Regions from separate parts of the Homo sapiens genome. Here regions 1, 2 and 4 are each linked to region 3. The links come from fine-mapping of genetic effects on gene expression. A gene starts in region 3. Each other region holds a variant in brackets. All regions are shown on one strand. Distances are from middle to middle.

Region 1 (8,038 bases), 39 kb after region 3:
AGTGGAGTCTCACAGAACTAAAGGGCAAAAATCCATGAGACCCAGGAGGGGCAAAGACCAGGGAGTCTTCTCCCTTCCTCTGTCTCATCATGGTGTCTCTCTGAGAAGTGGCTTCATTCTTCTTGCAAGAAGGGCTTCTTATTTTTACTACTCATTCCTCATGGTGAATTGAAAATGGTTGTCCATAGCTTCCAAATTCACATTTTAAAGTACCAGTCACTCCAATTGCTGGCTTGTGCTCTCACTGTGTCCCCCTCTCCCTCTCTGCAAAAGCATTGTCTCACCCAATTCCATATGTGCAGTTCAGGGATGCTCACTGGTCCCGCTTGAATCAGGTGTCTATGGCCAGCGGGGTAGAGTCACACAGCTGCTGAGAAGGAAGCCAGCAGTCTCCAAGAAGTGGGATGTAGCAAACAACAGGAGGAGGATGCCTTCATTCAATTAGTATTTACTGAACACCTCTGTGCCTGGCACTCTTCTAAGTTCTGGGGAGATAGTGATGAATAAAAAGACAGAGCTCCTCCTCTCCAGAAGCTTGTATTCCATTGGCAGGGGTCGGGGGTGTGGAATAAGCAAATAATTAATAAGTAACAATTGTATCAGATGGTTATAAATGCAGTAAACAATGGTAGTGGTGTGCTGGTATAAATGTCTAACAACCAGTTTTCTGAGAGGCATTGGAAAATTTCTGTGGTGTAAATAGTTCTACCACGATTAATTTCAAGCTACCAATGCAATGTCATTGGATAGGGAGTTGGGAGAGTGCAGTAGGGCCTGACTGTAGAGTGTTTCCACCACACAGATATCATAGACATTAATAATCTCAAGAGCATAAGAGAAATATGTAGTAAAAGACTAGGAAGTGATGAGTTTTGAGAATTTATTAACTTCATTTTTAATATAATTAATTTAATTGGAAGTTAAATCATTCAATTCCTGATGGTGGCTTTATTTAATAACTGGCTCATACAATTCTTGAAAATTTAACTTCCTGTGATCCAGTGTGAGCTAGATCCAAGACAGCACTCCTGGTAAAGAAAGCAAAGCAGGTTGAGCGTTCACGTTCCAGTTATCTAGTGCTGTGTAACAAACAACCTCAAGACCTAGTTATTCGAAATAAGAACTGTTCTATGATATCTCACAATTTTATGGGCCAGATATTCCAGCAGGCTTCAGTTGGGTGGTCCTTCTACTCAGTGGCATCAACTGGCAGATGGACCTATCTTGAGAGTCCAAAGTGGGTTTGCTCACATGTCTGATGCCTTGGTGGGAATCATCAGAAGGTAGGGCTCAGCCGGAACTGTTGACTGGAGCACCTACACTTGGTCACTTCAGCATGGTGGTCTCAAGACATCAAATTCAGGGCTCCTGGAGAAACTGTTCCAAGAGTCAGGAAGTGGGAGCTGCCAATCTCTTAAGACCTCAACCTGAAAACTAGTCCAGCACCACTGCTGCTATATTCCATTGCTCAAACCACTGAACCTGCCTAGATTTAAGTGGACATAGACCTCCCTCTCAACAGGAAGAGTATTAAAGAATCTGTGGCCATCTTTAACGTACCACAGATAGAGAATGGTAATGGTGAAGGAGCTGTGCTTTTTGAAATACAGTGGTTGAGGAAGACTTTTCCACTAAGGTCATTTTTTTTTCTTGAAAACTAAAGGCAATGAGAAGTGAGTCATCTGAACAAATCAAGGGTTTGTGCAGTTTTTTTAAGTCCAGTTCTTGCCAGGCAATCCAGATTAAACCCTCAGACACCATTCTGTTATGCCATAAGGATATCACAACAGAAACGTTTGAGAAGCACCAATTAGACCAACTTCATTCCCCAGGTAAAGGAAACTGAAGCCCAAAGAACTCAAGTGCCTATTCCCAGGCACCAAGTAAGGCCATGCTAGCATCATGCAGGACATGGCTTGAGCTTGGCTCTTCTACCCAGATCTCCTACTTAAAAGTCCAGTGCTTTTTCTATAGCTCCATATTTTTTGTTATTTTTGCAAAATTCTTTGTAGAATCAGTATTATTTCATGATTTAGCATTTAAAACTTTTCCATCTTAAACTACACATATTTTATATCATCAATAAGAATGTAAATTCCTTGAGGACAGAGAGCTTACTTTACACTTCTTCAAGGTTGCTGTATACAATTGTATAGTTCCTGCACTGCACAAGATATCCAGCCAGGCTGGGGAGGCAATGGGATGGGAACCTGCACTTGGCCTGCCAGGCTATGTGTTGTGGGGTAGGGCTGCATTGTCTCAGGGGAATGGGCATCTTTTTCCATTGCTTACAAAGGAGAGGCTGGGGGTAACTATACCTCTCTTACAAGTTAGACATTGTGCAATACAGTGCTGGACACGCAGAAAAGTGTCCTGGTATAGGGGAGGGGAAGTGGGGCATTCTGATTAATAGCCTGCTTTCAGATTCCTCCAAAAGTATCTCTTATGTGCATGCTCCAATTATCTATTGCTGTGTAACAAACCACCTCAAACTTACATAAAACAGCCATCTTATTGTGCTCAAAGATTCTGTGGGTCAGGAATTTGGATGTTACAGCAGGGATGAACTGTCTCCGTTCCACAATGTCTGGACCCCTGCTAAAAACTCAGTTGGGGCTGGAACTATCTGGAGGCTTCTTCCCTTATATATCTGGTGTCAAGGCTAAAATGACTGAAAGGCCAGATTCTGCTGAGACTGTTGACAGGAGCACCTGCATTTGGCCCTCCACGTGATGTAGGTTTCCCACAGCATGGCAGCTGGTCCTATAACAGAGCATCTCAGGAGGGAATGTCTGAAAAGCAAACCTTCCAAGAGAGCCAGGAGAAAGCTGCATGGCTTTTTCTGGCCTAACCTTGGAAGTCACTCCACATCACCTCCACAACATTTTATTGGCTGCAGGTGAGTCACTGAGGCCAGCTTAGATTCAAGGGGAGAGAAATAAGACTGCATCTCGATGGGAGAGGAGAGGTCATATTGCAGATGAGCATGTGGGATGAGAGATATTGTTGTGGCCATCTTTGGAAAATACAACAAGGCACGTGTCTTCAATAATCCTATACCACAAAAGAGATGAAGTAATAATTGAGGGATTGACCCCCAAACAGCCCCACAGTGCTAGGATGAAGAGCCTCTAGGGCAGAGTTCAGATGTACTGCTTTCTGAGGCCAGCGCCTGAGTCTCCGTAAGCCCCTGTCTTTTAAGTCTGTGGTCAGGGAATAAGCTCAGCACGGGCGAAGTGCGCAGCAGAAAAAGGCACCAGATGCTTTTTACCCTTAGGCTTCGTGGTTATGCCACCAAGAAACTCTGCAGACGAGCCTGATGACTGGAGGGTTTGCCTCCCTTTTAATCTGTGGGCCACCAACTAACTGTTAAAGTTGCCAGGGCTCACCGTAGAGCCAGATGTTCTTCACAGATGTGCAAAGGAAGCAGTTTCCTTATTACATCTCTTTAAGTTGTTTGATGCTATAAGATGCCTTTTTTAGTCTAATGGCGGTGCTGGGGGGCAGGGTTTGTACACCCCTGGCTAAGCAACTGTGGCCATTTCCTCCATTTCAGTGCACATAAAATAACCAGCCATGATCTCCAACCCCTTTTCTTCTTAACTAATTGGGTGGCCTTCTGCAGATGGGCTATGAAAACCAAAGGGAAGTTTCAAATTGAATATGTACATATATATTTTGTTATTGTTAAGTAATGTAACTTCTGAAATGTATTCCGCCTACCCTGCTCCATTTCACTATTCCTGTCATTAAGGTAAGACTTACTTACTTGGCATAAGAAAGCAAGTAGGAGAATAACTCACCATTTGTAATTGCAAGTACATTATATTAACCTCTTTATACGTATTAATCAGGTATCAACTCTCCCTGAACTTTATACCTGAAGGATTTCAGGAAAAGTAGAGTAGAGTTGCCATTTAGCTACACAATATCACCAAATA[C/G]CACATATTCAGTCTACCCCTTCCTCTCCTTTCCTCTGATCTGGTCTGTCTGCAGTTGTGCTGTCTGTGAAATGAGTTGTCACCACATCAAACCAAGGAGAAGTGGGAGGAAGCTGCACACCCACAAAATAAGTGTTCCTGGTGAAAAAAAGATTTCTTTCCTCTACAGAGAGAGAGCTATCTAACTGCATATAAACAAACTCCTTGTGTTATTCAACTTAAACATAACATTCCCCATGTGTTAGAGATGTATTTAGCTACAGTGCCCACTAACATCTGCTAAAATGAGAAAGTCCTCTCACCCATTCCCATTTCTCCTCCCACCCTCGCCTCCCACCTCCAAAATTACAATGTGTAGTCAAGGTTACAAAGACCTAAGCCTGAAATCAGGTATGTTTAGAAGAAGAAATACTTATGAAAGCACGTGGAACTATAGTCAAATATTTCTAAGGAACTACAGCTTTTCGACTAGCATTTGTTGGGGACCCAGCCTGTTCCAAGCACTGTGCTGAGGCAGTTCTACGGGACAGAGCTGACTCAGTCCACAACACAACTCTACAGTGTGCCCATGTGCAGGCCTTAGGGGCCATAAGAAATAAAACATGAACTAACTAGGTTTTGTGACCCTGACACAAGAACTACTTTCCAGGAAACAATGTGGCCCCTAAGTGCCATGCATCCCCACACTCTCCCTCTGTACCTCCAGCCTTAGAAGATGCAAAAGGCAACAACCCAGGGCTCTGGGCTTTTCTGACCTGGTGAGTCCCTTCTCTGTATAAGCTGGTGAACCCACTGAACTCATCTCCACTGAATCCATTAGAAACAAACAGCCACCAGGCAGCCAGATCTGCTTGCATCTGCAACCATGTGTGATGGTTAATTTTACGTCAGCTTGGCTAGGCTGTGGCACCCAGTCAAACACCAGTCTAGATGTTGTTGTGAAGCCATTTTTATTTTTTATTTTATTTTATTTTTATTCTTTCTTTATTTATTTTTTTGAGACAGAATCTCGCTTTGTCGCCCAGGCTTGAGTGCAGTGGCACGATCTCAGCTCACTGCAAGCTCCGCCTCCCAGGTTCACGCCATTCTCCTGCCTCAGCCTCCCGAGTAGCTGGGAGTACAGGCACCCACCACCTTGCCCGGCTAATTTTGTATTTTTAGTAGAGTTGGGGTTTCACCATGTTAGATGGTCTCGATCTCCTGACCTCATGATCCGCCCGCCTTGGCCTCCCAAAGTGCTGGGATTACAGGTGTGAGCCACCACACCCGGCCTGTGAAGCCATTTTTAAATATGATTAGCATGTAAATCTGCAGACTGAGTTAAGCAGATTACCCTCCATAATGTGGGCCTCATCCAATCTGTTGAATGCTTTAAGAGAAAAGACTGAGGTCCCCCGAGGGAGAAGGATTCTGTCTCCTGACTAACTTCAGATTTGAGCTGCAAACATCAGTTCGTCCCTGGGTCTCCAGCCTGCCAGCCTGTGCTGCAGATTTTGGACTTGTTAGCCAATAACATGAGCCAATTCCTTAAAATCTCTCTCTCTCTCTCGATATAGACATAGATATAGATATATAGATATATAGATCTCTCTCCATATGTGTGTGTATATGTATAGAGAAAGAGATAAATACATAGCAAAGATGTACGTATGTAGATACATATATGTGTGTATATATATATATATATATAAAGAGGGAGAGACATCTTTGCTATGTTGTATATCCATATAGAAGATAGATAGGTAGATAGATAGACAGATACAACATAGCAAAGATGTCTATAAACTTTGTACTGCTTATTTGCTGATTCAATCATGTGGTGGGGACTGCAGTTTGCCTGCTCAATATCCACTCCTTTCTTCTTTCTTGGCATCAGAATCCTAACCTTATCTGGGGTGGTAATGTTCTAGCTAAAAGACTGTATTTCCCAGCCTGCCTTATAGCCAAGAATGGCCATGTGGCTCAGCTCTGTCCAGTGACACGTGAGTGTACATTGTTACATGGGATTGTTATTCACATAACAGATGGATTCAATAGCTTCACAGGTGACAGTCCAATGACCTAACCAAGGAGAATTAAACAAGGGAATTTTATTACTTAGAACAAGTAAGGAGGATACCGGGGATAGTCCCACAAAGCAGCGCCTTCCCAAACACTGGTGAAAATAGGGCTTTTATTGGACTGGTTAGCTGAGTTTTTGTATGTAGAGGTAGAGTAAAGACAACACAGTAACTGATCATGCTTCTACACACATCATTCATATAGAAAATGGTGATAAGCTCCTCCCTGGGCAGGGTTTTTGGTACGGTAATGAGGAGACTTCACTAAAGTTCATCTCCAACTCAGGCATCTCTAGATCCAACCAGTTTTTGTTTTTTTGGGGCTGAGCTTCTTCCTGGAACTTCTTGAAACAACAAGAACTCAAGATGCAACAGTTACAAGCAGGTACCTTTTCACAGTACGTACCCAAAAAACTGAGGACCTTGGGTTACAAGATTTGTAAGAAAGCCACTTGAACGGAAGACAGGATCTAGCACACACTCTTTCTGTCCTTTCTCCTTCTTCAGTTTCCTGTCAAGAACGCGGAAGTGGTGGCCCAGTAGCCATCCTGGGCCACAGAAACCAGGGCCTAAAACTGGTGGAGCAGAAAAATACCATCTCTGGACAGCCTACTTCCCTTTCCCTAGGGAAAAAAAAATCCTAGAGCTTCACAGTGGTGTGCATGCACCTGTAGTCCCAGCTACTCCAGAGGTTGAAGCAGGAGGGTCGCTGGAGCCCAGGAGTTCAAGAGCAGCCTGGACAACAAAAATGAGACTGCTTCTCTAAAAACTAAACCAAAACAAACAAACAAAAAACCCCTAAACCTCTATCTTGTATAAGTCATTGTATTTTTCAGTTTCTGTAAATTACAACTGACCATGTTCCTGATTCAGACAATACACAAGAGCTAAAGTAATTTTCTTTCTTTTTTTTCTTTTTAGAGATGTGTTCTCACTATATTGCCCAAGCTGGTCTGGAACTCCTGACCTCCAGTGATTCTTCTGTCTCAGCCTCCTAAATAGCTGGAACTACAGGCTCAGGCCACCACACCCCCAAAGAAAGCCAAAGTAACTCAAGCCAAATCCAAGTTTTCATTCCCACCAATCCTCAAACCCAGACCAGCACGTGTGGTCTGGTCTCGCTTGCCCTATGTATTATTATTCTTCCCATTTTACAGAAGATGAAACTGAGGTAAAAATAAGTTAGTTAAGTAATTTGTCCAAGATCACAGTAAGTAAATGAGCTGAGACTTCAACTCAGATCTACTCCGCTGCAGAGCCTGCATCTGAGCCACAGTGTCTCTCAAACGTAAAGCTAAGAATAATGGATGGAAGTTTCAGGGTGCAGATTTCAGTTCGATATAGGGAAGACCCTTCTAAAGATAGGGGCGGTCTAATAATGGCATCACCTGCATTATGAGGTAGTGAATATCCTGTCACTTGAAGTGTTTAATTAAAGACTAGACAGCCATCTATGAGGGATACTTGTTTATAGTCTATTTACTGTCTATTTCAATCAATCCAAGTCTATAGATATACTTTGACTGAACTAATTCTCCACACTAGAAATTTTGAAAAAAGAAAGAAAAAGGTTAAATGTCCTACTACTGGTAATTGTTTTTTTTTTTTTTTTTTTTTTGAGATGGAGTTTCGTTTTTGTTGTCCGGGCTGGAGTGCAATGGCTCGATCTTGGCTCAACCTCCGCCTCCCAGGTTGAAGCAATTCCCCTGCCTCAGCCTCCCGAGTAGCTGGGATTACAGGCATGCGCCACCACGCTCGGCTAATTTTGTATTTTTAGTAGATATGGGGTTTCTCCATGTTGGTCAGGCTGGTGTTGAACTCCCTACCTCAGGTGATCTGCCCACCTCCGCCTCCCAAAGTGCTGGGAGGCACTGTGGGCAAACTCCCAAAGTGGCATGAGCCACTGCGCCCCGCCTTGCTACTGGTAATTTTCTAGCTCTTAGTTTGGGTCATGGGATTGCAGGTGTCTGTCTATTTTGTCACCGCCCTTCCTCACTTACATATATGTTCCACATGTCTTTTAGTATATAGTAAATA
Region 2 (8,038 bases), 85 kb before region 3:
GGATCACCTCATGGCAAGGCCAAAACGAAGCCACAACCATTTTAAAAGCAAAATGAGGTGACTATTACTTTCGAAAAATAAAATTGAAAGAGTGTTATGCTAAAAAAGACTCTAATATTTCACAGTTATATATGTCTTCCTGCCTTCATCTCTCTTTCTGTTAGTTTTTGTGACTGCAGCCGAGACCTCTGCCTCTGAACAATGGAATACCATTTTGCCTCTGCATCTTGTTCCAGACTCCAAGTTCTCTGTACACAGGGGCTATGTCATCTGCTTTATTTGCCATAGTGCCTTCTAAATTGGCAGGTACCAAAAATGCACATGATACATACCAATAGATTGCTTACTTTTTTCTTCATCTGTATTGGTTTGTCTTCTCCTCATAACTGAATATCCTCAACTATTTCACTAGATCAAAGTGTGATGAACCAAACAGATCACCTGTGTGGTTAATATTATGAACCTTAAAAGCCACTTGTGCCAGGCATGGTGGCTCACGCCTGTAATCCCAGCACTTTGGAAGGCTAAGGCAGAAGGATTACTTGAGCTCAGGAGTTCAAGACCAGCCTGGGCAACATGGTGGGACCCTGTCTCTGAAAACAATGTTTTAATCATAAAAAAATGAAAAATAAATTTAAGTAGCCACTTGTGAACACTATGTGAATGTTATATTGTGTTATAATCAAAAGTCACCGAAACTTCTTGTTTTTAAGAAAGATTTCTGATGCTATTGAGGTTTCAATATAGGATTTGCTTTAGGTAAAAGAAATATTACGGGAGAGAATGCAGAGAATGTAAACTCAACTGTGAAATCACCATGTTGACTATTGCAAGACTCTCAAAATGCTCTCCCTTTCCTTCATGAAGGAAAGTTTATAGAGAGTCATGGTAGACAGAATGGTGGAGACTTTTCTTTTTAAGATACAACCAGGGTTTAATTTGGGAGAGAGGAAACCAGATTTCAAAAGACAGACCCTGTTGGAAAGTCACCAATTGGCCACAGACAAAAACGTCTGTGAGGGATTGATTTTTCTCACTCCAGCTGGGACTTTTGTTGTTTTTCTTTTTACATTTTCTAAGTGTACTTCTCCTGAGATAAAATCCCAAATTCTACTCCTGGATAATCGGGAAAAGAGATTTCTTTGATCTTCAGAGGTGTTTTGACTTTCAAGAAGAAAAAAAGATGGGAAAACTTCAAAATATTTAAATCTCATACATATGTAGCAAATCCCTTTTTAAACATTATTCCAAGGAACAGCAGCTAACAAAAAATATCTTACAAGAGAAAATTTATTAGAAGTAAAATAAAAAATACTGACCTATAAGACTTTGAATATATTATATGGAAAAACTTTTTTAAAAGGAACATCTTAAGATGGGTTTATTCTCAACATGAGTGTGGAATCAATCACTGGGCACATTACTGATTTCATGCCATCATTCTTTTTTGCCTTAACTCACAAACAGTCAAAACACTCTTCATTTGTCAAAGTTTTAAAAATATATTTATCTTCTGAAAGGAAAGCCCACACACAAAAGTACAAAGGTCTGTGCATTATCAAAAGAACAGTGGCATCTTTATTGCCATGGTCTTGATGTTTAATAACTTACATCCAATCTGCATCCTCAGATCCTCTTGCATTAAAAAAATTCCAAGAAACCTCATCATAAAGACTACTACTTCATGGTTCCCTCTATAAAACAGAGCAGCACTTTGTAGTATTTTAGTACTTTTCATGCAATAATAGAAAAACTCTTTTATGATTCATTTGTTTTCCTCCAGATACCCATGGAGGAAAGTCAACTGTATATTCATTTTACTGCAACTCTGGTCCAGGAAATCATAAAACCAGCAGAAAAGAATGAAACTGTGAGGTCCCTGAGTTTAGGTCCTACTTTCTTGAGTTACTAAATTTTTTTTTTAAATGCTCATTGAATCAACAGACAATGGATAAAGAAAATGTGATATATGTACACAATGGAATAGTATTTGGCCATAAAAAGGATGAAATCCTGTTATTAACAGCAACATGGATGGAACTGGAGGTTCCATTACGTTAAGTGAAATAAGCCAGGTACAGAAAGACAAATATTACATGTTCTCACTTATATGTGGTAGCTAAAACAGTTGATCTCTGCTAGATCAAGAATAGGATGATACATAACCAGAGACTGGAAATGAAAGAGAGGGTGAGTGGAAGCCAAGGAATGAAGAGAGGTTGGTTAATGAGTAACTATACTAAGAATATTTTGTATATTTCAAAGAAACTAAAAGAGAGAACTTGAAATGATACCAACACATAAAAATGGTAAATACTCAAGTTGATGGATACCCCAAATACCCTGGCTCAATCATTATACATTCTATGCATGTAACAAACACTCACAGGTGCCCCATAAGTATGTAAAATATTATGCATCAATTTTAAAAGTTCTCTAAAAAAAAGTAAATCTAAGCAAGCAACTTCAAAAAATGTTGATTGAAAACTTAAAATTTCACCTCCATTTTGACATTATTAGTGGTGAAATATTTGTCATCTCCTTCATCACCATCCCATCTCCAGCCAAAGGACACTCCACACCCCTCACTCCTACCAAGACACTGAAAGTATAAAATATGGAACTCTGGAGGTCAGAAAACAGGAACACTTAGACACTGCTGGTGGGAATGTAAATTAGTTTAGTCACTGTGGAAAGCAGTTTGGAGATTTCTCAACGAACTTAAAACAGAACTACCATTTGACCCAACAATCTCATTACTGGATATATACCCAAAGAAATATAAATCATTCTCTCATAAAGACAAATGCACACGTATGTTTGTGACAGCACTATTTACAATAGCAAAGACACGGAATCAACCTAGATGCTCACCAAAGGTGGACTTGATAAAGAAATTGTGGTACATATACACCATGGATGGCTATGGAGGCATAAAAAAGAATGAAAGCATGTCCTTTGCAACAACATGGGTGCAGCTGAAGGCCATTATCCTAAGTGAACTAACACAGAAACAGAAAACCAAATATTACATGTTCTCACTTATAAGTGGGAGCTCAACACTGAGTACACGTGGACACAAAGAAGGCAACAAAAGACACTGGGGCCTGTTTGAGGGTGAAGCGTGGGAGGAGGATGAGGATAAAAAACTACCTATCAGGTAGTATGCTTACTACCTGGGTGACAAAATAATTTGTACACCAAACCCTAGTGACATGCAATTTACCCATGTAACAAAAGTGCACATGTACCCCCCTGAACCTAAAATAAAAGTTTGAAGGAAAAAAATAAAATAAAATATGGAACTCGGGATGTAAAGCATGAGTGGCTTAGTGCAAGCTGAAAGGCATCAAGCAGCCTAACTGCCCAGGGCCACACACAAATGGGTTCTCCAAGTGGGATCGAGGACAAGATGTTCGGCCAGGCATGGTGGTTCACATCTGTAATCCCAGCACTTTGGGAGGCTGAGGCAGGCGGATCACCTGAGATCAGGAGTTCAAGATCAGCCTGGCCAACATGGTGAAACTCCATCTCTACTAAAAGAACAAAAATTAGCCAGGCGTGGTTGTGCATGCCTGTAATCCCAGCTACTCAGGAGGCTGGGGCAAGAGAATCGCTTGAACCTGGGAGGCAGAGATTGCAGTGAGCCAAGATCGCACCACTGCACTCCAGCCTGGGCAAGAGAGTGAGACTCCATCTTGAAAAAAAATAAATAAATAAAATAAAAATGACAAGATGTTACTCCAACCAAATACCCTGATAGGTGTTTTTTCTTAATATATGGAGCATTCTTGGAAATAAATTTTAAAAAGAGAAGAGGAGAAGATAGGAGAGAAAGGGGAGGGAGGGGAGAGAGGAGAGATAAAGGGAACCCTTCCCCAGATATTATCACATTTTTAGCAACCATTTAGCGGATGGAACAACAACAAATTTTCATCATGGCTAATTCTTAAAATATCATGCTCAACTCCACTGTGATTTAGAGCAAAATTCTTATGTCTAGAAATTAATCCTTTTCTACTTTAACTTCTCTTTTTGTAAGCTTGCCAAGAATTATTCCATAATTTGCCAAGCAAAATAATTCTATAGCCTATCTAGAAGAGACTAAAAGGATGAAAAGAGAAACAAATTATATGTTTCTGTAAAGAAATATACATCTTATACTTTTATTTTCTGGGTACAATTTACGAACAGCTGGTATCTCTGAGGATGAGCCATTTCGTGTTCGCAATATAAATATTTGTTGATCCTGGTGGGTATTTTTGAAGATCATATTAGTAAAATACACACAAAAAAATCCTTGAGTTACATTTGTTTTCCAGAAAACAAACCCATATATCTCCACTTCCTCCTTGCTGACCTTTCTTCCATCTGTTTCAAAATGGGTCAGGAAGGGACACCGAGCCCAATAG[C/T]AAACAGGATGTTTAAAACAGGGGTTGAAAAACAGTCACATCTGAGTCCAGGGATTCCTGGGGCATGATAGGGCAAGCCACTGCATTTATTTGGCCTCAATTTCTCCCTCTAAAAATGGAGACTAAAAACCCCACACGGTTTCCTTGATTTGAAGCAAGAATAAATTAAACTTAATAAATTGTAGAAGATTGGGGGACAGAGGACACAGAGTGAAAAAGAAAAAATTGCAATGTGGACCATAAGCATGCTGTCGGGAGGAAGCTAGTGGTCTTCAGGCCACATTTTGAGAAACATTGTCAACACTGACTATTTTTTCAGCTTATTCAACCTCTTTATATTTGTCTTTATCATTGCTTCCTTAAAAACAAAGTTTGTCAGTAAAAATGTCCCACACATGCAAAAAGCAAGAAAATGTTCCTACCCACCTTCTAAACACGTCAAATAAACATTTTGGATTTTCTGTGCCATGGGGCTATTTCACCCTCATACTCAACAGATATGAGCACCAATGATGTGCCAGGCTATGTGCTACGCAATGGAGATAAAGGTGAAAAAGCAGACTCAGGGACCAACAGTCTCATGGGAAAAGATAAGCAAGTAAATGGGTAATTAAAACACAATGGGATAAATATACTGTATTTAAATATTCAATTTCCATATACTAACTGTTTAGCAGAGCCAAAACCAGAGTTAAGCCAGGGTTCCATCTGTTTTGAGATGGTAGAAATTAAAACAATGTCGCTATCCCTGCTGAGACCATGACTCCTTTTCCTAGTGGCAGCCAAGAATATATAATCCACTCAGTGTCTGATTTCTCAGTTTAGGAATTCCAATCAAAAAAAGCCATGGCACAGGGCAATTGCCATGCGACCAAGTAAAAGCCTAAAAGAATATCTGAGTGTCTCCTGCCCTGGGTGTCAGGGGTATAGAAATCCTCTTCTCTGTATAGTTCCTTTTCTCATGCAATAGGTCTTTCCTACACTTGTTCTTGGAGCCTGATACCTACCAAGGATGAGGTATTCTGTAAAGTAAACTAAGGAGATGGAAACTCTTTTAATATAATAACAATGGGAAGTGCTAGCAGAAAACTAGTATTTGCAATCCAATTACTTAAATCTTCTACTCTAAGATTACCTTCAAAGAAAATGTTTTCTATCCCTTCTCCGCATTTAGGACCCAAAGCCCCTACCTTACTCCAACTCCCATCCCTAGCAAAACATAGGATGACAGACAACCCTCCCCTAAGGCTAGACACAAAATTCGACAGGAAGAGGGTAGGAGAAAAGGAAGAATAAAGTAGAAGAGCAGAGCGCTGAAGATCTGTAAGGCAAAGAAAAAAAAAGGATGAGAGTCCAAAAGTCTTCATTTTCCTTGAGATTGACCACATGATGTTTCCCAAGTATAATATTTAGCACTAAAACCACAGAGGCATGGGCAGAGGTCAGAGACAAATTGAATTTTCCAGTTTCCACAACCATGAAGACTTGGAAGGAGACAGAATGTAGCACTGGGATTAGGCATTTGAAATAGTGGATTAAAAGTGTTTCTAGATTCCATGTATGTGCTTGACTAGCTATTATGGGGTCTTTATTATTGACTATTGTACCTCTCCCTTCCAGAATAAGGAGCATTCATTGATATTTTAGCACAGAAATCAAATAGTCTTTGGCCTCTTCTTTAATCCAAGGGAATTTTGAAATAACATACTTCCTCTGCATGTGCTATTCCAGCATCCACCATAAGATCTGTTGAGGATACATTCAAACTGATATTTTCCAAATAAGAAAATTCTGAGCTTAGTATGAAGACTTCATCAAACAGAGCTCCTGGAGGTGTCTGGAGTAAATCCATCTTTAGAAGAGGGCCATTAGGGCTTTGTTTAGCATGATCACTAACTTGCAAACTGACCTATTATATCAATCCGCAGTATCCAGGTTGCCACCTTAGGAAACTATATTGCCTTGGTTTCACTCTCAAATTCTAATCAAGGACTCTCCTTGTGGAAGCTGTGAAAATGTCTATGCCCATGACAAATATCTATGGAAATCATGACTAAGACAGGTCAAGTCTAGGTTTGTCCGACTCCTGCCTCCGACTCCTGCCTCCATATTCCTTACAAATATAAACAGGAAGCTAACATCTTCCCTGGTCCTCACTGAGGGGTTTGGGTAAGAACCTCCAATCTCCCTCCTTCCCAAGTCAGTCCTTCCTTTTTTTTTTTTTTTTTTTTTTTTTTTTTTTTTTTTTGAGATGGAGTCTCGCTCTTTCGTCCAGGCTGGAGTGCAGTGGTGCTATCTTGGCTCACTGCAAGCTCCACCTCCTGGGTTCACGCCATTCTCCTGCCTCAGCCTCCCGAGTAGCTGGGACTACAGGCGCCTGCCACCATGCCTGGCTAATTTTCTATGTTTTTAGTAGAGACGGGGTTTCACTGTGTTAGCCAGGTTGGTCTCGATCTCCTGACCTCGTGATCCACCCGCCTCGGCCTCCCAAAGTACTGGGATTACAGGCGTGAGCCACCGCGCCCGGCCCAGTCCTTCCTTTTCTTTGTATCTGAATAGAAGTAAAGACCCGGCGGTAATCGCATCCCTCTCCATTTAGTATGGAAACCACCTCTCTCCTTGCCCTATTTCCTTCCATTTTTGCCTTCTCCATTTTTCCTCTTTCTCCCCAAGGCATACAAATTGTATGCCAGATACATAATATGCTCAATCATTAGTATTGAAGGATGACCCTGGTAGTTGATGTCCATGCCTCCCTTAGACAAGAAAGCCCTACATTCTCCACCTTACCCAAACACCAGGTATTAGTCAACAGTGGGGCAAGAACAAAATATAAGGATATAAAAGGTGCCTGGAGCAGAGGGAAGAAAAACAGTTAAAGCTGGAATTCTTTGGTTTTCAAGTAATAAAAACAACCCAATCCCACCTGATATAAGCAAACCAGGGGGAAAAAAAAGGTATTTTATGGGCTCATAAAACTGAAAAGTCTAGGCTGGGCATGGTGGCTCACACCTGTAATCCCAGCACTTTGGGAGGCCAAGGCGGGTGGATCACGAGGTCAGGAGTTCAAGACGAGCCTGGCCAAGATGGTGAAATCCTGTCTCTACTAAAAATACAAAACTTAGCCAGGCACGGTGGCAGGCACCTGTAATCCCAGCTACTTGGGAAGCTGAGGCAGGAGAATCGCTTGAACCTGGGCAGCAGAGGTTGCAGTGAGCTGAGATCATGCCACTGCACTCCAGCCTGGGCAACAGAGTGACACTCCATTAAAAAAAAAAAAAAAAAACTGAAAAGTCCGTGTTCAATCTTGCCTATTGAAGGAGCTTGGATCAGTCACAATGTCTCTGGGCTCCTCCTTCTAGCAGTTCTTCCTCTAGATAAGCTCCAATCCATGACTTCACAAAAGTATTTCTAGAAAATTCAGGCTTATATCTTCAGAAACCTCAGTCCAACAAAAAGAAAATCTGCTTCCCAATACCTCAAACACCAATGCCAAAATTGAATTTCTTTTGGCTCTCATTGGCCCACTTTCAGTCACATGTCCATGGCTGAAACATGGCTGTGGCCAAGAGAATGGACTGCACAGATTGGCTCAACCTAACCTAGTTACATGCTCCACTCCTTCA
Region 3 (8,038 bases):
TTTTAAGGGCCCTTGATGCCTTCCAATTAAAAATTTCTATCAGTGCTAAAAATTCTTACCTGCAGATTTGGGGCAACCATCTGAGAGACTCAAGGTCGCCTCCAAGGGGCTGCAAAAGCAGGTGCTGGAATGACAACTGGATAAACACTCACTGAACACCGAGTTAGAGGAATTGGAAAGGGATCCTGAAGCCCCATCACTCAGCTCATAAAACCCTACAAATAAAAACACCGTTGGAATTAACATCATGTCAAGAAATAATGCATATTCACGCTTAACAGGAAAATGAATAATCATTTAGGAAAAGGAGATTTTTTGTTTGTTTTTTGGCCAATTTTGATTCATTGGACTTTGGTGTCCTAATCTTATGGTCTTATTTCAAACAATCCTTAGGAAAAGGCAAAGAGCCCATAACTAGGGGTACATTTCAGAGTTACCCTCACCCTCAAATTGACCTTATTCCTTGACCCCGCCTTTGAACATGTCCAAGGAAAGAAACTTAGATCTGTCAAGCCTCATCTTTATCATGATTGTTTCAGAACAATAATAAGAGAAAAATCTAAGGAGCCCAAATGGTTTAAAAGAAAAAAAAAAAAAACTTTTGAAGTGGTCTCAGGAAGTTGAAGTGTGACTAATTTTCTAGCCCAGTTCTGACTTACTCAAGTTTCAAAGGAGGGCACCTCTTGCAGAAATTTGAATAGCTTTTATTTTTAAACTTGGGGGACTCCAATCACATTGATCTCATTACTAAAAATTTTGTTGTCTGAGTTTATTTCCCTCTTATTCCGATAAAACTGAATGGCAGACTTCTTTTTTGTTTATCCTCTCTGCACTGGAAACAAACTCCATTGCCATTTGCAGGTCTGGGAATGTTAACCACAAGGGGCTGAGATACAACTCAAGAGTGCAGAATTCTGTCCTTGTGCTCAATCACTCACCTGAGCTAGGCCGACTGTCTGTCTCCAGGTGCTCTTCAGATGTCTTTTCTACATCCAGTCTCAGGTCACTTATCTGCTTGTCAAGCTCTTGCAACTGATTCAACAAACCAGCATCTCTTCGCCTCAAACAGTTCTGATTAGGAAGAAACAAAGGAAACATGAACATACAGGGGTGACAAAAGAACCAGAAAGTCTACTCTAAGGATTCAAATTACCCATCTGAAGAGTTCACTAAACTTAGAAAACCAAAATTTTACTGGATGACCTGAAGTAACGAAAAACTTCGAGAATTCAAGAATATGTCCTATGTTTAATTCCACTTTCTCACATTTTGTGGTGATATAAAGTTTCTTCATAAAAACAAGACTTGTTTTTAGTTTCAACTAATATATACAAACTGACTTTTCATAGATAGGGACAAGAAAAATGGACTGAGACTTTAAATCATCTGGTGTATAACCAGTCTTTTAAAAAACAATACTTCACAGTAGACTCTTTAATTTGAAATGAGAGTAAGAGATTTCCTATAATACACTATAATCTTAGGTGAGATTTTCTGGCCAAATGTCTTGGCCTGCAGAGTTTTGTTTTCTATTAGTTGCTTTGTGGGGTTTAATCAGTCTTAGAGCCTTTGAAAGTGAGAAACTAATACTAATAGCCAGTGCCAAGTATAATGTGAGCTGGCAGAATCCAAAACCCTCATGGGAAGGCCCATCGAGATTTGAACGCCTCTGGGTTTCCAAAGGTGACAGATGGATTGTGCTAACTCACACTGCCACCTAGTGCTTCCTATTGCTGGAAAAACGGGAGAACTCAAAAAGCATCTGGTTCAAATCATGAATGCCAAGTCTACAAATGAAAATAGTACCATAAATACTGACTGGACTGGAATTCTCTTGACATACTGCTTTGCTCCCCTCAAGCGGACAATAGGAATGCGCCACTTACAATCTTGAGATTCATGCAGACAAAAAGGTGCAATTGCACAAAACAATAAAATGTAAAAGTCACCAGCCATAACCAGTGAGAACTGGCTCAAATGAATGTTACATAGGAATCTGGTCTGTGACCGAAGCAGCACAGTAAAATGCCAAAACAGAGATATTACACAAACCACAGTGTACATCCTTACAAAACACATGCATATGAATATCTACGCCTCTTGTCTTTTGACTTAAAAAGCTTGGAGACATAAATTGTATGTTTGTTTGCTACAATTAATTTCTTCAGGAAAAATGAACCTATCAAGTAAAAGCACTTTGGTGCTTAAAAACACACACACACACACAGAGAAAAGAAATGATCTGAAAAGAGATAATAGAAGAAAACACATGACAACTGCACAGCATCACCACTTTATTGTGGGAGGGCCACTACCTGGCATGTGTCTAGTTTAGATAGTATCACTTGGTCAGGTGAGGACGTTTGCTGTTTCCAAAACTACATTTTAAGGTCACTGAAAACAAAGCTGTCGCCATTATTCTGAGGCGGGGTCAAAAGCTGTTCATCAATACATTAAGCTACAAAGTTCTTTTTCTTCCCCATTAATGAAGACTGCATAGAAAGACTGAGACACTGACAGAAACCCAGTAAGATAAATGCTTACCGAGAGCAGGTTCTCTTTTCTCCCACCTCCACCACCAATCACAGCTGGCAGAACGTATAAAATATGAGAGGAGGGGACACAGTCTCCAGCCAAATTTCCATCATTTCCATCTAGTTTGAGCTGCCTTATACAAAGGGCTTCTATTTGAAATTAAGCACCAGCCTGGGTGAAAGCTGGCATGCTGGGGAGAGCTCTCGGAGAGGCACGGCTCCCTACAGGCGCTCCAGTGTAATCGTAAAACTCGGCCCTGGACAGTTAAGCACGCCACAAACCCCCTCCTTGGCTTTTGGCCCCTCTCGGCGGGAGGAGATAAAGTCAAGAAAACCTCCAAATAAAATGGTATTTTAAGTGGGAGTTTGCAAACCGCTGGGGAGAGGGCATATACTCATCTAACTAAGGAGACCGAACGTTAGAACTAGGCGACTCCAAGAATCCCGAAGGCAGAGGAGGAGGGAAGAGCGGCCACCCCCTTCCCGCAATCCGCGCGAGGTCGCCAGACACAAAGCGGGCACACGCCAGAAACGCGTGGGCGTCGGCAGCCCACACGCCGCGGGCACTCAGGAAGGGGATCAGGGAGGTATGGGGCGGTCGGGGGCGTCCCATAACAGCGAGCATCTCCCCAGCCAGAGTCAACCTCGCGCCCGCCCCAGGCCACCTGCCCGACCTCCAGCCCCTGGGCAGGAACAGCCGTGCTCCACCTTCGGGCACGACCTACCAATTGCTTTCTTAGCAGCAAGATGTTCTCCTCCAAGAACTTCTCCTCCAGGCGACTGCGCTGCGCCGCCTCCCCCAGTAGCTCCCCAGCGCGGGGCGCAGCGGCTCCCGCACCCCCGGCGCCGCGCAGGGCGCCCCTGACCAGCAGCTCTTGGCGCTGGCGCAGGTACTCCAGCTCCGCCAGCCCGGCCAGCGTGGCCTCCTGCCGCTCCCGGGTGCGCTGCCGCTCGGTGTCTGCCTCGCCCTTCTCCCGCCAGCGCCCCTCGGGCTCCGCCGTGCGCTGCTCGCCTCGGGCCGGCGCCGGAGGCTCCAGCTCCTTCGCCGTCCCGGCCGGACTCGGCTTCATGGCCCCCAGTCGGGCAGCGAGAGCCGTCACCGCAGCCGGGCCGCCCAGGCGGAGGAGCAGGGCGCTAGGGCTGCGGCCGCGGGTGGGCTCATGCCGCCCTGTGGCGGGGCGCGGCGCTGGCGGGGACGGTGGCTAGAAGCCCTCGAGTCCTGCGCGCGACCGCCGGCTGCTGCTGTCCCGGCCCGGGCAGCGCCGTCCGCTGTCGCCGCGCGTCCCTCGCCGCGGCCCGGCAGCTGATAACGCCCTGCCCGGCGCTACGTCACGCGCGGCGGCCCTGCAAACCCCCGCCTGGCGCCCGCCTCCCCGCGCCGGCCCCTCGGCTGCGACGCTTGCGCCCCCAGGCTTCCCCTCCTCTGTCAGGCGCGCCGCCCGGCCCCCAGAGCCGCCTCCTCCTCGCTCGGCCCTCCCCGCCCCTCCTCGCCCCTCCCCGCCTCCTCCCCCGCTCTCTTCGCGGGCCTCCTCGCCCCCTTTTCGGGTTTACTGCACCCGATTTTGCCCTCGCTCCTCATTGGCTCTTTCTCGTCGCCCAAAGCTCGGGGCGAGCGCCTGGAGCCCCAGCATCCTGTTACAGTCGGCCGCGCAGGCAGGGGCCGCGACGGGACGCGGCAGTTGGGCTCTCCGGAGAACTTTCTGAAACTCGACCAAGTTGCAGCACAGTCTTAACCCTTTCCCCACACGGCCACTCCTCATTTCCACTCACACCGAGTTAGGTTTCTTTCACTTCCCAAGCAAGGTATTGCAAGTGTATTCACAGACACTGTGGGGTTGGTTCCTTAACTCCACTTTGTAAAGGCAAGCAATACAGAGCACAATGCAGTGTTCTAAAACTTAAGTTTTGTTGTCGTTTTAATTTTTTAACGTCGGTCTTACGATGGACGGCATTTAAAATTAGGCAGGAGGATGTCGTTGTATAGCGAGAGGTTGCATCAATTCTTTTACAAGCCTACGATTTGAGTGCGCGCGCGTGCGCGCTTTGGTTTTTGTTTGAGCTTTTATTATTACTTAGTCTGCGTTTACAATAAGAGCTCTGACTCAGAAATCAGACTGTCTGGATTTGTATCCCAGTTTCACCCCTAAATAGCTGTGCGGGCAACTTACTCCCTTCTCTGTGTACGTTCCCCCCACTGTAAAAGGGAGCAGCTGCTATGGGAACCTGCTGTTGAAGAATTATAATAGTATGCAGCATATGCTATATATTGTGGGGGCTGTGCACTTACAACGTGGCTAGCACATAGATAGTAAAGGTGATATGAGTTGTAGCTTTTCTCCAGAGGGATTTATAAGTCTTCCCTCTTGAAGTATCATGTATTGGTCATCTCTGCTTGGAACACACTACTCCAGACCCCTATCCCACTGAAATTTCCGGTGGGATAGGGGTCTGAAAATTCCACTAGCTGGCTTATCTGTGGAAAAGTACCACATATATCTTTAAAAGCAGTACATCCAAGAACCTCGGAAATTCAATCCAGCAAGTCACAATTGCTGAAGTTCAGGCAAAGTGTTGTGTGAAAGAGTGCATCCTATATCATTATTTCAGACACTTGCACTTTTGCCCATCTGCTTACCCGTGCTAGGAATTCCTCTTCTTTCCTCCCCTCTCTGTGTGGTCTAACCACCCTTCCAACCTTTGAGCTCCAGTTAACTATATAAATATCTGATTCTGATCCCATGCTACCTGTATGGTTATTTATCTGGGTGTGCACACGCATATCTATCTACGTAGGTGTTTATGTGTATCTCTTCTCTCCATCTACATTATGAAAGCTTCCTGAAGGCAGGGACTGTTTTAATACCCTCTTAGTATCGCTGTATTCAGCACATTACCTTGCAAGCATTCACCTGACAATTGCTAGAGAGAGACTCGAGAATGTAGATTGGTTGTAAATTGTTTTTTCATTAGCATACTTTTAAACTTAATAGTACCCATTTAATCTCTACTACAAATAGAATTAAGTTGACATTTACCAAAAAACAAAAACAAAAGAACTCCCTTGCCACCTTTCACTTTCCTCCCCATTGCTGCCTCCCACAGACATGAAAGAACTACAAACTTGATTCATAATTAACAAGGTTGTATATTAGCTCTAAAAATGGAATTATGGTCAGGTGTTCATAAGCATACAAAATCGATTCTCTTCAGGTTATCTATTCTTTATGCCTGCTGTTGCCAAACACTACTTTATAATATAGGAACTAATTTTCCTCCCTAATTTTAGTAAGGCACGAAAGGATAGTGACTTATCCTGCTTGCCAAATGCCACTCACCCATGTCCTCTGTCATTGTTTCATTCTGCTCATTTCTAAACAAGCTTCTTGCTTTCCAGCTCTGAATTAGATTCCTCTGACTGGGTGGAGTCTATTATTGTGGCCTGTGTTATGTCACACATCGACAACTATATTTGTATAGTTGAGGGGGAAAAAAAGCTGAAACACATTTTTACACACTACTAATAAATCTTAAGTCAGGCAGACAAGCTCGCTATGTCTCCAAACCTCCCCACCCTCCCAACCCCCCTCCTCACCAAATGCCACTTTGAGCTGGCTCATTAGTCCAAAGCAAGCCATTTGCCGTAACAGCTTGTATATCTCCATGAAAAAGTGTTCTCAGCAAGTTTAAATATTAAAACTAATATATTCAGATGGTTCCGCCAATAAAATGGTCACGAATAGGAAAAAAGGTTATGCTTTCCAAAGTATCCATTACACATTAATAAATAATGCTGTTCATTCACATGCCAATTAAAACAAACTCAGGCTGTCAAATGAAGTTAGAAGCAAGGAGCTCAATGCTGTAATTGTTTTTCCAGGAAAACTCCCAATGTCATCAGATTAAGTGAGACAGGCTGGGTTGCCCCTATTCTCTTTTTAAGCTAGCAGCCAAATTTTCTCCCCTCCAGTCTAGTTGCCTGGATTTTCTTTCCTCTTTGATTCTTTGTTTTTGTTGCAGGTATTCCGGAAGCAGTTGAAAGTGATCGCCTACTGCTCCCTTCTGTTGCCAACGGAATCTCACTTCCCCCTACTGTTTTGATTTTTCTTTCCCTTTCTTTTTAAAGCAGGTGCTGGTACTTCTTCCTCCACTAGTGCTATTTCATTATCTCCTTTCTAATGTTGTTCAGCCCTAGTTGGTTCTTTTGCTTTCCCTGGACACGCCTGTCTGCTCAGAAAAACTGTTAATTGACACTCAGAAAGTGTACCACTAACGATGGGGTGGACCTGCTGCCTGGATGATCTGGAGAGTAAGATAAAGTTGCCAGCATGAAAAAGAGTCTTGGCTGAATATATTACAGTGGTGTTAACTTATGCTTGAAGATCTTTCCTGGGCAGAGCCAGAACATGTCCCTCATATCACACAGTCTGATGCTTTGTCCTTAGGCAGAACAGCTCCTAACAGCACCCCCACCAAAGTCTGAGCATCATTCTACAAATGCCTTGTCCAGCGGTGAACATTCTATTGCAGCCAAGCAAAGTAAGGGGCATCAGTTGCACATTTTGCCATCAAGCAAAGCAACAAAATGATGCCTTGCAGCTTTTATGGCCAAACAAACACAAATGATGTAATTGGGAAAAGCTGTCTCCGAATAGGAGGAAAAGAGTAAAGGGCAATCCTTTGAGCTGGAGAGATGACCACCATTCGAGGGTCTGGGATCAAAGCCCCAGCCAGACATCAAAGCCCATTTGAGTCTAATGCCAAAAAAGCCACAGTGAATTAAACTTCATATATAAACTAATTATAGCTTGACCCCACAATCAGGCTTCAGTGAGCACACAGGGGAAAGAAAGCAGACATTGAAACAAAAGATCAAGAAAAAAGAAGCGTGGTAGCAAAATGGGGCAACATCATGGCCCTGAAAATTTTAAACATCTTTTGAGGGCAGAAGGGAATAGGGGAATAGCAGAAGAAACAGCAAATGTTTGACAATGCTGGTCTTGTTTGAAAGGCTATGAAACAACTCCTTCCATCCTCTCTGGTGCACAACCAAACACTACCAAATAAACCATCCTACATGAAAAGGTTACCTTTTAGCTGTGTTTTAGTGCTGTTAAAGAGGTTTTTGTTGAAGAAGGCCAGGGTGATTCCATGAAGTTTGGTGGTAAGTTTTTCAAGAGGCTCCTGCTTCCTCCTGCAGAGCACTGTGGATTCCAAAGATTCTAGAATGTCTGGAAGTGAGTTGCATTCCCCACCGTCGTAATCACTGATTAAGGTGATTAAGTCTCCACCAGCCTCAGACTTTTGTCCCTTAGCTCTGCCATTTCTACCGGTCATCTTTACAGATGGAAGGTGCAGAGTTCCATGTGTGCAAATACCTAGAGCCACATACTGTGGTACTAATACAATGAAAGGATTTGATTTCAAAGCAAAATTTAAAAGTGTTTCAGAGACAAGTGGCTTTTTTTTTTTTTGAGACACGGTTTTACTCTATCACGCAGGCTGGA
Region 4 (8,038 bases), 260 kb after region 3:
TAAAGAGGAAGTCAGACTGTCGCTGTTTGCTGATAAAATGATCGTATACTAGAAACCCTAAAAACTCTCCAGAAGCTCCTAGAATAAATGAATTCAGCAAAATTTCAGGATATAAAATTAATGTACACACATCAGTAGCTCTGCTATACACAAACAGCGACCAAGCTGAGAATCAAATCAAGAACTCAACCCATTTTACAATAGCTGCAAATAAAATAAAATAAAATACTTAGGAATAAACCTAACCAAGGAGGTGAAAGACCTCTATAAGGAAAACTACAAAACACTGCTGAAAGAAATCATAGACAACACAAATGGAAACACATCCCATGCTCTTAGATGGGTAGAATCAATATTGTGAAATTGACCATCCTGCCAAAGCAATCTACATATTCAATGCAATTCCCATAAAAATACCATCATTCTTTACAGAACTAGAAGAAACAATCCTAAAATTCATGTGGAACCAAAAAAGAGCTGGCATAGTCAAAGCAAGACTAAGCAAAAAGAACAAATCTGGAGGCATCACATTGCCTGACTTCAAAATGTACTATAAGGCCATGATCAACAAAACAGCATGGTACTGGTTTAAAAATAGGCACACAGACCAATGGAACAGAATAGAGAGCCTAGAAATCAGGCCAAACACAGCCAACTAATCTTCGACAAAGCAAACAAAAACATGAAGTGGGGATAGGACATCCCATTCAACAAATGGTGCTAGGATAATTCGCAAGCCGCATGTAGAAGAATGAAACTGGATCCTCATTGTTCACCTTATGCAAAAATCAACTCAAGGTGGATCAAAGACTTAAACCTAAGACCTGAGACCATAAAAATTCTGGAAGATAACATCGGAAAAACCCTTCTAGACAGTGCCTTACGCAAAGACTTCAAGACCAAGAGCTCAAAAGCAAATGCAACAAAAACAAACAGATGGTACTTACTAATAATTAAACTCAAAAGCTTCGGCACAGGAAAAGAAACAATCAGCAGAGTAAACAGACAATCCACAGAGTGGGAGAAAACCTTCTCAATCTATGCATTCAACAAAGGACTAATATCCGGAATCTACAAGGAAGTCAGACAAAATCAGCTAGAAAAAAACAAGTCCATTAAAAAGTGGGCTAAGGACATGAATAGACAGTTCTCAAAAGAAGATATACAAGTATCCCACAAACATGAAAAAAAAACTCAACATCACTGATTTTCAGGGAAATGCAAATCAAAACCACAATGTGATACCACCTCACTCCTGCAAGAATGGTCATAATCAAAAAATAAAAAAAAAAAAGATGTTGGCAAGGATGTGGTGAACAGGGAATACTTAAACGGCTGATGGGAATGTAAACTAGTACAACCACTATGAAAAACAGTGTGGAGATTCCTTAAAGAACTAAAAGTAGAACTATCATTTGATCCAGCAATCCCAGTACTGGGTATCTACTCAGAGGAAAAGAAGTCATTATATGAAAGATACTTGCACACGCATGTTTATGTGCATACTTGCACAATGCACAATTGCAAAAATATGGAACCAGCCCAAATGTCTGTCAGTCAATTAGTGGATAAACTGTGGTATATATATATACACCATGGAATACTACTCAGCCATAAAAATGAATGAAATAATGGCATTTGCAGCAACCTAGATGGAATTGGAGACTATTATTATTATTATTATTATTATTATCATTATTATTTTCCTTCTTGGAGACACAGTCTTGCTCTATTGCCCAGGCTTGAGTGTGGTGGTGTGATCTCGGCTCACTGGAACCTCCGCCTCCTGGGTTCAAGTGATTCTCTCCCCTGGGCCTCCCAGGTAGCTAGGATTACAGGTGTGCATCACCACACCCAGCTAATTTTTATTTTAGTAGAGACAGGGTTTCACCATGTTGGCCAGGCTGGTCTCAAACTCCTGACCTTAGGTGATCCACCTGCCTCACCCTCCCCAAGTGCTGGGATTACAGGCGTGCACCACCACACCAGGCCTGGAGACTTATTCTAAGTGAAGTAACTCAAGAATGGAAAACCAAACATTCTATGTTCTCACTCGTAAGTGGGAACTAAACTATGAGGATGCAAAGGCATAATATGATACATTGGACTTTGGGGACTTGGGGGAACGGGTGGGAGGGGGATGAAGGAAAAAAGACTACACAATGGGTACGGTGTACACTGCTCAGGTGATGGGTACACCAACATCTCAGAAATCACCACTAAAGAACTTATTCATATAACCAAAAACCACCTGTCCCCCAAAAACTTATTGGAAAAAAAAAATCACTGATGGGCTGCCCATGCACATTCATCCCTGGAAACCAAGAGAAAACCTGAGCAATTTGTTACCCTCCAACTGGGACCAAAAAAGTTCTTTAAGGATAATAAATATATGTTTTGTGTTATAGCAGAAGGGCAACTAGTATAGGGTTTACAGATAAAATACAGGATACGCAGTTAAATCTGAGGTTTTTGTGTGTGTTTGTTTTTGAAACGGAGTCTTGCTCTGTTGCCAGGCTGGAGTGCAGTGGCACGATCTCCGCTCACTGCAACCTCCTAGTTCAAGTGATTCTCCTGCCTCAGCCTCCCAAGTAGCTGGGATTACAGGCATGTGCCGCCATGCCCAACTAATTTTTGTATTTTTAGTAGAGACGGGGTTTCACCATGTTGGCCAGGATGGTCTCAAATCTCCTGACCTTGTGGTCTGCCCACCTTGGCCTCCCAAAGTGCTGGGATTAGCGGCGTGAGCTACCACGCTGGGCCTTTTGTTTTTTTTGAGATGGAGTCTTGCTGTATTGTCCAGGCTGGAGTGCAGTGGCACAATCTTAGCTCACTGCAACCTCCGCATCCCAGGTTCAAGCAATTCTCCTGCCTCAGCCTCTTAAGTAACTGGGAATACAGGCATGCACCACCACATCCCACTAATTTTCGTATTTTCTGTAGAGATGAGGTTTCACCACGTTGGCCAGGCTGGTCTTGAACTGCTGACCTCAGGTGATCCACCCACCTCAGCCTCCCAAAGTGCTGGGATTACAGGCATGAGCCACCGTGCACAGCCTAAGTGTGTTTTAATAAATAACCATTTTACATGGGACATCCTTATATGAGGAAATTATCTGTTGTCTGAAATTCACATTTAACTGGGTATCCTGTATTTTTATTTGCTCACTCTGGCAACCCTAAAATGATGGGATTCTTGAATCAGATTGTCTTGTTTAATGTAATTTAGCCTCGAGAAGAAATCCAATTACTTGTACAGAGTAATCATTTATTGTATCTATGTGGAAGTTCCTTAAGCTTTTCACAATAGAACTTTTCAACATGAATTCTGCATGACACAGATTACAAAGTGAAGATAGCTTCATAATTATGTGAAGTACAAATACCAAAATTATAAGCACTGCCCTTATTCTGTTTAAAGAGATACATAATGGATCTATATGAATAAAAGAAGTTTTTTTTGTGCTTGTCAACATGGAAAACATTTGATTTTGTAATAAAATTTAAAGAACTAAAAAAATTTCTACTCTGTGAAAACATTAAGCATGTATTTGTTACAAATTCCTCATTAGAGCAAACTCCATTCTAAGAGTCAACCAACCTTCACTAATGATGGATGTCATCACTTATTGTACTCTTCCTTTAATGTGATAAAAATCTGTGTGTAACCACATGAAAGTAATGGGAAAAGGAAGAACAAACAAGGAGAGAAGGAAAAATAGCTCATCAATTTAGGAATATTTTCAGATCAGACTGTTAAACAAATCTGCTTTAACACTTTTCAAATGATTTTTTTTTAATTACTTTGTGAAAAGAACCTTGGCTGGCACAATGGCTCACGCCTGTAATCCCAGCACTCTAGAAGGCC[G/A]AGGCAGGTGGATCGCTTGAGCCCAGGAATTTGAAGACTAGCCTGGGGAACATGGTGAAACCCTGTCTCTACTAAAAATATAAAAAAATTAACCAGGCAAAGTGATGAACACCTGTAGTTCCAGCTACTTGGAAGGCTGAGGTGGGAGAATCACCTGAGCCAGGGAAATAGAGGCTGCAATGAGCCATGATTGCACCCCTGCACTCAAGCCTGGGTGACAGTAGTCAAACGTAAGACCCTGTCTCAAAATAATAATAATAATAACCCTAAAGACCTCTTTTAAATGTCTGGCTTTAGGCCAGGCGCCGTGGCTCACACCTGTAATCCCAGCACTTGGGTGGCCAAGGCGGGTGGATCACTTGAGGTCAAGAGTTTGAAACCAGCCTGGCCAATGTGGTGAAACCCTGTCTCTACTAAAAAACAAAACAAACAAACAAATGTCTGGCTTTAAGAACTCAATCATCTAGTAGGATAGAAACACACATGCACAAGTAAACATCAGGTAAATTGTCAAGTAAAATAATACAGACTGAAAAGCTATCAGAGCATAAAAGAGGGCACTATTCTGGTTGTAGTGAGAAGTCAGCAAAAGCTTCATGGAAAAGTGGCTCTTGAGACACCTCTGGACAAGCAGGGTTGAGAGTGGTAGGGAACTGCTCAAACCTTGACCACCTGTCCTTTTTGCTCCTGTTCCCCTACCACTCTCAGTCCTACTTGACTCCTATCCTGCATCAGGTCTACTCTTGCCCTGGCTCATTACCTGGACCATTTCTATCAATCTCCCCTCCCCCATGTCCCTGGAACACTATACTCTCCATATCTCTCCTTCTACTTCCCCAGCCAATTCATAATCTTCACTGGAGTTCAGTTTTCTTGTTGCTTTCTCTGCAAAGCCTTCCCATACCACCCCTGCCTTCAAACTAGTGGGCTCTCTATCATTATCTCATTGCACACCATAACTTCATATGCTTATTATACCTGCACTTAAGAATTACATGAGTTTGGATAAGCAGAGACTGTAATAAAAAAATAATAATTACATGAGTTAACTGTTTACATCTACCATATTATTACACCGTGATTATACATTCCATGAAGAGAAGGACTTTATTCTGTCTTGTTCACCGTTGTGGCTCCTGGGCCTTAAGCTTATGCCTGGCACATAGAAGATACTAAATAAATCATCAATGAATGAATTCTGTTAATTGGTTTTATATATGGTTGAATATAGCTTTGAATGCTTTCACACTCTTGATAGCTATGTTAAATTACAGGGCTTAAGGCTGGGCGCGGTGGCTCACGCCTGTAATCCCAGCACTTTGGGAGGCTGAGGCGGGCGGATCACAAGGTCAGGAGATTGAGAACATCCTGGCTAACACGGTGAAACCCCGTCTCTACTAAAAATACAAAAAATTAGCCGGGCGTGGTGGTGGGTGCCTGTAGTCCCAGCTACTCAGGAGGCTGAAGCAGGAAAATGGCATGAACCCGGGAGGCGGAGCTTGCAATGAGTGGAGATCGCGCCACTACATTCCAGCCTGGGCAACAGAGCAAGACTCCGTCAAAAAAAAAAAAAAAAAAAAAAAAAAAAAAAAAAAAAAAAAAATTACAGGGCTTATAAGAAAGGTATGTAAGCAAATTAACTGGGCAATCCACATAGATTTTCATAACTTAAAGCAATTTCATAGAAGGCATAGTATGTAGTAGTCTTTTAATATGCTAAGTGCAACCATCTTTCTTAGTGAAAGAGAGGAAAACTAGAAATTTAACACAAAATAACAAACAATAAAAGCACACAATGTCCAGCTGGGCACAATGACTCACACCTATAATCCTTGCACTTTGGGAGGCCGAGGCAGAAGGATCGCTTGAGCCCAGGAGTTCAAGACCAGCCTGGGCAACACAGCAAGACCCTGTCTCTACAAAAAATTTAAAAATTAGCCAGGTGTGGTGGCACATGCCTGTAGTCCCAGCTACTCAAGAGGCTGAGGTGGGAGGATGGCTTGAGCCCACGAGGTCAAGGCTGAAGTGAGCTGTGTTCACACCACTACACTCCAGCCTAGGTGACAGAGCAAGACCCTGTTTCAAAAATTGAAATACATAAAAGCACACAATGCAATACTAAAACAGAAAGCACCATAATCTTTTAAATAACTTGATTTTACAGATGGCAACTTGCATTATATTAGAGTGTCTTTATATTTTTACTTTTTTTTTTTTTTTTTTTTTTTTTAGACAGAGTCTTGCTCTGTCATCAGGTTGAAGTGCAGTGGTGTGATCTGGGCTCACTGCAACCTCTGTCTCCCGGGTTCAAGTGATTCTCCTGCCTCAGCCTCCTGAGTAGCTGGGACTATAAGCACGTGCCACCACGCCCAGCTAATTTTTGTATTTTTAGCAGAGATGGGGTTTCACCATATTGGTCAGGATGGTCTCAATCTCTTAACCTTGTGATCCGCCTGCCTCTGCCTCCCAAGATGCTGGGATTACAGGTATGAGCCACCGCACCCAGCCTATATTTTTACTTTCTTAGTTACATTTAAGAGGTATCTATTCAAAGTTTACCTAAACTCAAAATATGCTCAATATTTGAAATGTCATACTTAGTCAATATTCACTTAATTTCATAATCCTTTCCAGCCTCCAAATGAAAGGATTTTAACAGTGTGTATCTATTCAATGAATACACAGTTTTGCTCTTTGTAGCAACATCCCAATACTTCATGACCAAATTTGTATCAATTAGAAGGGACAGTACTCAAGCTGATAACTTATTTATCTCACATTTATTGAATTGCTACAGAAGGAAATCATTAAAATATTTAATGTATAAATCTAAGGTTGCCTCCTAGGTCCAAATGGATTTAAATGACACTTTTTTTTTCATTTTTATAATTAGTAGAAATATTTTATTGTAAAGGCTGAATATACTAAAATGCTTGGTTTTGTGAAATCTGATTTTCCAACTGTAAGTTACAAGCACTTAGGAAAAAAGCAATCACTTAAATGAAAACTAAAAGTATAAAGCCTATGTTTAAAACATGGCCTTTATTAATACTGCCCACTGAGCTCCATTTTTATTTTACATTGAGATACTTCTGCTTTGCAAAGAAAAGACAGAAAAGTGCATTTTACAAGAGTACTTTTTTTGTTTTTAATTCTCTGAGAAAATGGAATCTGAATCACAAGTTCACAATGTAGTAAAATGAAATTAAGAAACAATGATTTCAGTAATGCTATGCCATCACTAGTGTTTAGCTCTGACTTTTTCTTGTAAATCAGATCCTGATATACAGTCTAGAGCATCTAGGTTATTATTCTACAGCATATTAAACACAGAAAAGGAGGTTTAAAAAAAAAACCCCTTTCAATGTACAAACATGAATTTAAAAACTGCTTTTATAAAATCACCTTTTTACATAATGTATATGCAAAACTGCTTTAAATACATGATTTTGGAAGAATTATTTACAAAATCTATCAGTCTGTGGAACAATTCACAGACAAAGCATACATAGTTGCTTTACTTAGTTGTTGCATCTCAACTTTGGGAGATATAAATTCATTCGGCAGTATAGCAAACATAAAAACTGTGACAAAGTATCTTAAGGGCAACCAAAAATTTGATCCTCAAAACAGTTTAAATACTAGGACTGCCAAAGTTTCTAAACAAGGACATACTTTAATGATCCAGATGCCCATTTATAGTTCTATACTGTTTGATGGACTGAGACAGACTCCCTTTAACACAGGCAAGGCTGCAGGATGCAACCTCCTGTAAAAAGGACAGCTGAGAGCTATTGTCATCCAAAGAGTGAATTAACCTAGAATTTTCTTTTTTTAAATTTTATTAATATTTTAAAAAATACATAAAAATACAACATCCAATGTCTGAATAAATATATTTAACAAGTTGCAAGATAATACCTTATTTTACACAAAAATTTCAGCTTTAGAAATCTTGTTAAATAACTTCATTGTTGTTATATATTTCATTTTTGTCTTTTTGTAACAAAATAAAAACTCTGAAATTACATAGAAAAAAGACAAAATATTTTTGTCAAGGGATAAGATAGTCCACTGAAAACTTATTCACAATTCCACTGTAAACATTAATAAACATTAAAATATTTGCATAATTTTGTGCTCAAAAATCCTATAAAAAGTGGAAGACTT

Alleles and levels. Positions count from the first base shown, and alleles are read on the strand shown. Sizes are in standard deviations (SD) of each study's normalised expression. Not every link is listed here.
With allele T in place of C in region 2, the expression in transverse colon of the gene that starts at base 3,845 in region 3 is higher (small effect, 0.33 SD a copy in GTEx).

The links.
Region 1: its variant is fine-mapped to the expression of DACT1 in whole blood (TOPMed, PIP 0.98).
Region 2: its variant is fine-mapped to the expression of DACT1 in transverse colon (GTEx, PIP above 0.99).
Region 4: its variant is fine-mapped to the expression of DACT1 in whole blood (TOPMed, PIP above 0.99).

Annotation. Positions count from the first base shown.
Region 1 is chr14:58,594,621-58,602,658 of GRCh38, reverse strand. No RefSeq gene overlaps it. Among named protein-coding and RNA genes, the nearest start is that of DACT1, 39 kb to the left of the region's middle. The variant C/G (reference allele first, on the strand shown) is at 3,942.
Region 2 is chr14:58,719,018-58,727,055 of GRCh38, reverse strand. No RefSeq gene overlaps it. Among named protein-coding and RNA genes, the nearest start is that of DACT1, 85 kb to the right of the region's middle. The variant C/T (reference allele first, on the strand shown) is at 4,413.
Region 3 is chr14:58,633,769-58,641,806 of GRCh38, reverse strand. It overlaps DACT1 (dishevelled binding antagonist of beta catenin 1), which reads right to left and starts at 3,845. Exons shown (of 4, transcript NM_001079520.2): 1 at 3,260-3,845; 2 at 939-1,071; 3 at 60-215. The coding sequence starts at 3,604. RefSeq lists a silencer at 3,345-4,054.
Region 4 is chr14:58,372,587-58,380,624 of GRCh38, reverse strand. All of the region lies in intron 1 of TOMM20L-DT (TOMM20L divergent transcript), which reads left to right. It overlaps ARID4A (AT-rich interaction domain 4A), which reads right to left. Exons shown (of 24, transcript NM_002892.4): 24 at 6,749-8,038. Among named protein-coding and RNA genes, the nearest start is that of TOMM20L-DT, 19 kb to the left of the region's middle. The variant G/A (reference allele first, on the strand shown) is at 3,869.